Linked DNA regions of Homo sapiens. The protein of the gene in region 2 interacts with the protein of the main gene of each other region in a biochemical or structural test. Each region holds a gene or a part of one and is shown on either strand. Other genes may lie near its edges. The genes, in order: LGALS8 and ITGA4.

The links.
Region 1: the proteins of ITGA4 (region 2) and LGALS8 form a complex in vitro, tested with the Homo sapiens proteins (one study listed by BioGRID).

The regions. Positions count from the first base shown.
Region 1 is NC_000001.11:236,547,880-236,551,804, reverse strand, and holds part of LGALS8 (galectin-8), read right to left. Parts: exon of another isoform or gene 3,844-3,925; intron 3,794-3,843; coding exon 3,644-3,793; 3' UTR 904-3,643; coding exon of another isoform or gene 815-903; 3' UTR 1-814. Other genes in the region: HEATR1 (HEAT repeat-containing protein 1), read left to right, coding at 815-903.
Region 2 is NC_000002.12:181,460,230-181,464,154, reverse strand, and holds part of ITGA4 (integrin alpha-4 isoform 1 preproprotein), read right to left. Parts: intron 1-3,925. UniProt on the Homo sapiens protein: Integrins alpha-4/beta-1 (VLA-4) and alpha-4/beta-7 are receptors for fibronectin. They recognize one or more domains within the alternatively spliced CS-1 and CS-5 regions of fibronectin. They are also receptors for VCAM1.

The DNA.
Region 1 (3,925 bases), on a different chromosome or scaffold from region 2:
TGCGAAGTGACCACCTCCTGATCATTTGAGAGTCCGTTTACAGTGTAATCTTCACGATCTTTTCTTTTGTGGTGGTTTGTGATCATACAAGCAGATTACAGTAGTGTTTTTAATTAACCTCATACATTTATATGATTGAAGTTTTGGTCCCCAGATTGTATGGAAATGCCTAGTGGCATTAAGGATGCAGTAGGATGTCCACTTTTAGTAGCAACCGATGTTCATTCACTACTCCATGTTAGGTGCTTTACTTGGATTATCTCACTTAAAAACCACAACATTTTATCTCTGTTTTACAAAGGAAGAAACTAGAGGCTTAAAAGATTTCAGTTATTTGACAAAGATCACAAGCTAGTGAGTGTGACATGGGGAGCTGTGACAGTTCTGGAACATAGAGTCTTAGGCCCAGGAAATAACAGTAAATGTTATTATTAAGGGAGGGGTGGTGGAGCAAGTAGATCAGTCCTTTACTGATTCATTGCTTATCTAAGCTACAAAAGTACATTCTCCTTTGTTTCTTAGCTCTTGGAGGGGGGAGGTGTGAGCTACTAAAGGGGTGGCATCCCTAGGAAGTTTGAGTTTTGGGGATTCTTATTCAGCTTCCAGTGCAAGCCTGTGGGCAAGGAATGAAGGCGGAAGGAGCGGTGTGGAGGGAGGCGGTCCGTGGCGCCTCCTGCTTTGTTAATGTGCTTCATTTCACTCTTTTGATTGAATGATTGCCGGAAAGTGCAAGGCATTAAGAATTAAACTAATGAGAACCGAGGCAGGCGGACTGACTCAGATTTTAATTTTGATTTTTTTTTTTTTTTTTTAGATGAATGTGAAGAAGTAGAACATCAGTGCCAAAAGACTATTCAGCAACTGGAAACTGTCCTGGGAGAGCCACTCCAGAGCTATTTCTAAGACTTTCTGTGGTGTTTCATACTCTACTCAGAGTTCACACTCATATTTCATATTTTTATTTTTGGGTGTTGGGTGCCATGTTACTTTTGGTGCCTTAATACACCTACTTGGATTACTTACAAATGTTTTATCACTTCTTTACAAAATCCCCACCTGGCTTGTGCTGCCACATAAGCCTCTCCTGCCTATCGTATAGAGCTGCAGAAAGAGTAAATGATACACGGTATTTTTATACAGACTGCTGTGTTTGTTTAAACATTTATTATTCTCTTCCTGATTGATGGTAATAATATTAGACTTGTTAATTTTAGCACCCAAAGCTGACGCCTCATTTGCACTGTAAGCCTTAACTCTTCTGTACAGCAGTATCTTACATACATGGTATCCATGTTGCAGATTTCACTCAAAGTTGCTCTATTTCAAGAAAATGAAGTTATTTAGCAATCAACAGAAGTACTTTTGACTGTAAAGCCTACTTTTCATTTTGGGTAGGCGAACTTCAGCCTTCGTTTCTTTGTTGTGCCCATAAAGAGAAGTGGTTCTGGAATGCTTTTTTTAACCCAGGAGTGTGACTGTCACCTTTATCCTTTGTTCTTTTGGGAAACGGGAGAGATGAAGGCAACACGCTGCTTCTAAAACAGCTCACACCTGGCTGCTCACACAGAGGGCCCAGAAACACTGGGTGGCACGAGGAAGCTCCTCCAGGATTCAGAATGAACCCAGTTCCATTGGTGGTTAACTAAGAACTACTTGTCTAAGAAAGTAAGTATCAGTAGATTTTTTTCAATGCTTTGAAGTGCCCTAATCTCTAGTACTGGGTCATGGTGAAGTTGGAAAGTGAGGGTTCAAATAAAATTAGATCTGCCCCCTTTTTAAAGGCATCTAAGAACATCCCGTAGAATGTTCGCATTGAGTTTAAAAGCCTTTGAAGCTAATATAGAAGTTTAATGCAGAAATGTGGCAAGCAAAAGGCCAACTTGCATTTTAGAGACAGAGCTTGCTAGTATAGAAGTGCATATTTCTAAGAAATGTCTCAGTAAAATTCATTAATAAATACTAATAGCTTTTTAAATTTTTTTCCTCCACGTAAAATGAAAATGAACTTAAGACTTACAAGGAATGATGTGAGTGGGCTATTTTTTTCCTAAATGCCTCACAGTCTCCAACAGCTCAGTTAAGCACTCTGATGGTCTTTATGGAGAAAAATAACTCTGGGGGATTCTCGAGTCTTCTTGCCTTCTACAGCTTTCCCTGTGGCACCCTCCACCCCCAACCAGTGTCTTTGAGCTTGGTGAGACTCTGCATACATTAATATGAAAAGCTGGAAAAGAATTAAGGGCTAGCGATTTCTACACTGAGTACTTTTAAAAAAATAAGATTGACAATGGTATTCTTTTCAATATATGGATAGAAATAATATCTAAAATCTGTTCTGAAAATATTCCTAAATCCTGGCAGAGTTCTGCCCCAGTCTAATGTGATAAAATGATCCTCACTGACTGAGCTTTTTTCCCTCCCCACTCCCAAACCTTTGAAATTTCCTGTAACAAGATCTGACCTGTAAAGATCCCATATACATGGAACTTCTGCCAACTCCCCTCAAATAATAGAAAAATCACAGAAATGGAACCATTTAACTTGCTGATACAGGTTTGATTTTAATCACGTAAAGTGGAAGAGTGCTTTGATCTCAGTTGCTAATGATGATGGACTAATCTTTAGAAGAACGGAGGCCTTGATTGGTGATTTCATGGGAACAAAACAGATTTCTGCATTACCTCTGCCTGCTTTGTGGGTCCCTTAGTTGGCGTACACTTTCTGATAGTGCCTGCCTTATGAATGCCTGAAGTCTAATCCTGACCTTACTTTGTTGCCCATAAATATCTTTCAAATTGAATGCATCTTGCCTCTTCCTGAAACTTTCTGTAGGCGTCTGTGTAGACTCTGATTTGCCCTAAGTTCAAATACACAGAAATCAGCTGCCTTGGGCTTGGCATCAAGTTAATTTCAGCACCATGTATTTGTTTTGCTTTGGTTTTTTGCCTTAATTTCTGTGCTCAGATGTCATGCCAATTACTTGGTAAAGCTTGCAGCTAATAGAGCCACATGTTTATTACGATAAAGAAAATGATGTCAGTCAACATCAGTCCTCAGTGATGGGATACGGTAGAGCACTGGTTATGACAGTGATCACTGGGGAAGGAGTTGTGTCTTCTGTAAGTTAGTGTCTTCGGGTGATTTAATATCTGCATAACTAATCCCAGAGGACCCCTTAGGAGTTGATGTAATGCCTGTAGAAAAAGCAGTGCGCAGCAGTAGCGCACAGAAGAGTCGAAGCTCAAGAGAACAGGGAACATACTGGTTTGTTTCACCAAGTATATATCCTAGCTCTTCACAGTTTTACCAAAAAAAATCTGTGCTCAATACATGTTAGCTACTGTATTATAGTAGGTACTCCATAAATACTTGTTGAATGGCATTCTTGAAGAGTCAGCCAAAGTAGGAGAGAGGGCAGAGTGGCTTTAACTGGCTATAAGTGTTGCTGCCCCCAGTTTCCCCATTCAGTGCTAGACACCACCATACTTCATGGCAAGGACTGAGAACACCCAGCAGGACCTAATGGTGCACAAGCTCATTTTAACAATATAAACAATAGAATGACAGTGAGATGCGTTTCAGCAAGGCCAGTATCACAGAAGCCATTCTGTATTTTGGTTTTTGTAGCAGCTGTGTAGGTAGGCTACCAGCTCCTTACTTCCAGTAAGTGGATGTCTCCATTAATTTCCAGCGTGTCAATACTGCTGAGCTCTTTAAATCTGTGTTTGTACTCCAGGCTGTGTACGCCATTTACTGCAACCTTGAATTCTCTAACATCACAATAAATTATCATCTGAAAGGAAAGGATACATGCCATTAGTGGTTCCCCTTAGTTTAAAATTTTGTGTTTGTTACATGCTAACGGTGTCAGAGTAAACCATTTGATTATACATAGAAAAGTTCCAGCCTGCTGCTGCTGACTTCC
Region 2 (3,925 bases):
TAATGTCAGATTGACCTGATTTTTCTTGCTACCTCTTTGGCTTCACCCTCTTAGCCTTTTTTTCAGCCTCTTTTCTTCTCCAGCGGTTCTCAAGCATGGATGAATACTGGAATCATCTGGGGACCTCTGGAAACTACTGGTGCCCTATAGACTTACCCCAGAGATTCTAGTAGTTTGAGATGGGCCACCAGAACTGTTAAAAGCTCTGCATGAGAATTTAAGTTACAGCCAGACTTGAGCAGCACTATTCTAATCACTTCTCGAACTGTAGGAATCCTTAGAAATTTGCCATTGGCCATTTGATCTATTTACCCCAGAGAGATGGTAATCAAAGCCTTGGAGGTGAATGGGGTTACGTCAATTACTCACCTCTGATTTGCTAGTACAGACCTCTCTACTGTCTACCACACCCATACATGGAACTGATCATAGAACTGATCACTAGATTTTTACTTCTATGTCTCACAGGAATCTCAAGCCAACGAAACTCATCATTTTGCCAGAAAACCTGCTGCTCTTCCCTTTTTCAGTATATTGGATCATCATCCATGTCACAGCCCAAATTAGAAACTTCAGTAACATCTTTGGAACATTCTCACTCATCTCTTTCATTCAATAATTACCAAGTGCTATCTCCTAAATACCTTCAGAATCTCCATGTTCTTCTCCACTGCTATTGCCAGTGTCCTTGTACAGACACTTGTCATCTGTAGTCTAAATTATAACAAAATCTTCCTACAACTGCCTCATTGCCTTCAGTCTTGACCCAGTTACTCCAAAGCATTCACTAACCTGCAACCAGAGAATCTGTCAAACACACAAATCTGATCATGTCACTCCCCAGTTTTAAATATCCTAGGGTAAATTCATACTTAGAGTTGTATCAGAAGTAATTCCTGCCTGCCTCTCTAACCTACAGTTTAGCTCACACTCCATAGTGCAACTGTACACAATTTTTAGTTCTTCAAAAGCATCGTGCTCTCAAAGACTTCAGGGTCTTTATACACACAGTTTGCTCTTTCTGGCAAACTTTTCCATAGCCTCTTCCTCTGGCTAACTTCTGATTATTTTTCAGTTCCCCCACTTGAACACCAATTCTTCAGGAATGCATCACTTTATTGTCTTACCTAGATTAAATCTCACCATACTTTCCTATAATAACCTATCTTATAAACTTTAAAGCCTTTGGGACAAGGAGTATGTTTCTTTTGTATGCCCAGGTTCAGGCCCTTAGGCATCCCTCAATGAACAACTGAATGGATAAATTACCCACATGTGCAACGGATTTCAGCATCTGACCCTAGAACTGTTGCCAAGGGGATATATTTTCAAGTCATTGGGTATATCACTCAGTGACCAAGTAAACTTAAGGCAAAAACTAAAGTGCATTTAGAAAGCCTCATCTCTCAAATTAGGTGGAAACCTCATCCTTTTGGGACATAAAGTTTGGGAAACTGCTGGAAATAAGGAAACTTCTTTCTGGTAACCTGATAGTTTATTAGTGAAGCTCTCTGTCTTGATTTTCTACATAATTGTATAACAGCCTTCATTCAGGGATGATTTTTCAAAATGACCAATCTGCAATCTCAGCTTCATAAGCTACAATTTAAAGCACATTGCAAATGAAAAAGTAAAAAGTTATCAAGAAAAACATATTTGAAGTTTCAACAGTGAGATATTTGCTATTTAATGTTAAGCTAATAACTCCTATGAATCAAGTAGAAGTGAGGATTAGGTAATCATTAGTTTAATAATGCAATGCTAATTAAATTCTTTCAAATAGGTTATATAATATGAACCAGGAGGCTGGCTAAGGTAATAAAATTTCCAGAAAGAAATCTAAATATGGGTAATGGTGACTAACTTGAGATGGGTCTTTCCTGTAAGAGAGGGACAGGCAGGCAGCTTGAAGGCCCAGTAACTATAGAACACTTAGTCTAGAAAAGAAAGTGAAAGTTCTACTCATTTATGCATAAATATCAGGAAAGCATCTCCTAAAGAGATAGCGTTATTTTTACACAGAGAACTTAATGTTTCTCTACAGCAGTGCTGTCCAATAGAAATATAATACAAGCCCATTGGAAATTTTAAATTTTATAATAGCCACATGAAAAAAGTAAAAATAAAATTAATTTTATTTAACCTAAAATTTTATTTCGCCTAATAAATCCAAAATATTATGTAATCAATAATTTTAAAGTGTTTGTTTCAATATATATCATAAAAATTAATGAGTTTTCTTATACTAAGTATTCAAAAGCCAGTATGTAATTTACATTACAGCCCTCTCATCGCTGACTAGCCACATTTTATGTGTTCAAAGCCACCTGTGGTTAGTGGATACTATACTGGATAGTGTAATTGTATAACTTTAGACTATTACCCAAATGAGAGTTAGTGTGTGTATAATGCTTTCAGTGGTAACTCCAAAGTAATGAAAGATCTGGAAACATATTTGAATAACCAAATAAAGACCATCTTTTTAGTGTAATTTGATAATCATTTCTATGTTTTATTATGTTCTATTTGAATATTGATAGTCCATGGATGGACTATGCTTAACTATATTAATTGAGTCATTATTTGTGACACCTTAATTTAGGAACCAGCTGTGATTAAAGTTTCCTTTAAACAAGCCTGATGATGCAGAGTGCCCGGGTGGAAAGTGGACATGTAGAAATCACCTGGGTCTCCTCAGATATAGTCTTCACGAGCAAGTCTGGGCCCAGACCCTCCTGGCAGAGAGACCACTTTCCTCTGGTACAAAAGAAGTGAGAGAAGAGATGTCTCTTGGGGAGTCAGGGAGGTAAAAGGAGGCCAACAATATATATGCAGGAAGAAAAGCACCTTGCGGTACTATCCAGGCAACTCTCTTGGTGCTGGCTCTGCAGTCAACTTGCTTGACTAAAAGGGGTATCTCATGCCTAACGTCTCTCACCCTGGGCATTCTAGATAAACAGGCAGGCTCACTTCTGCTTATGGCATGAATATACCATATGGGACACCTTGTCCACAGAGGGTAGGGTAGGCGAGATATGGACCTTCTCTTTTGAGGGGAGGAGTCTATCTGAATCAACCACTGATCTGAAATTCTACAGAGACTCAAAGACTAGTCCATGTGGATATTTTTAATTGTGTGGGAGATGGGCACCATTTGAAGACCCTACACCTTCAGGTTCTTGATAGCAAGTAAAGCTATTCCAAAGGAAAGAAGATACCTTACTGACATGGCAATCACAGATCGATCTTTAATCATTATAACATTTTTTTCTTCAGCCAACAAAAATTTCTCATTGTGTTTCATTTCAACTTCTACCTTTTAATGTATTACCTTTTAATTTTTAAACTTTTGGTTCAGTTTATCAATTGTCCCTATTAACCTCAGCCTGCTTGTTACAGATAACATACAGATAATAGATTTAAGTAAACAATAAAGAAGAACCACTATTTTTTGAATGTATTATGTGTCAGTACTGAGCTAAGCATTTTTGAAACATTAGAGTCACCCACATTTGAAACAGGACAACTGAAGCTATTTTATACAGAAGATTCACACACACACACACACACACACACACACACACACACTCTTCTACAGAAGATGGCTTATATATATTTACACACACTCTTGAAACTTCTTCATACAAAATAGTGCATAGCCCACAAACCTAAGAATCCTAAATTATCTTTATTACCAATGTATTGTTTTTAGTGTTTTATTTCTAGACTGTAGCCTCAATCCCTATTTTATAGCTTCAAGCTACCACTGAATTTATTCTGAATAGAGAGGCAGTTTCTTTACATGAGGAATAAAAGATATCTGTATTCTTTAGAATGTTACATGAGAAATAACTTCAGTCAACTCTTCGGCAAATACTCAAGGCATTACTATCACTATTAATGTTTTAACTCATTGACTGACTAG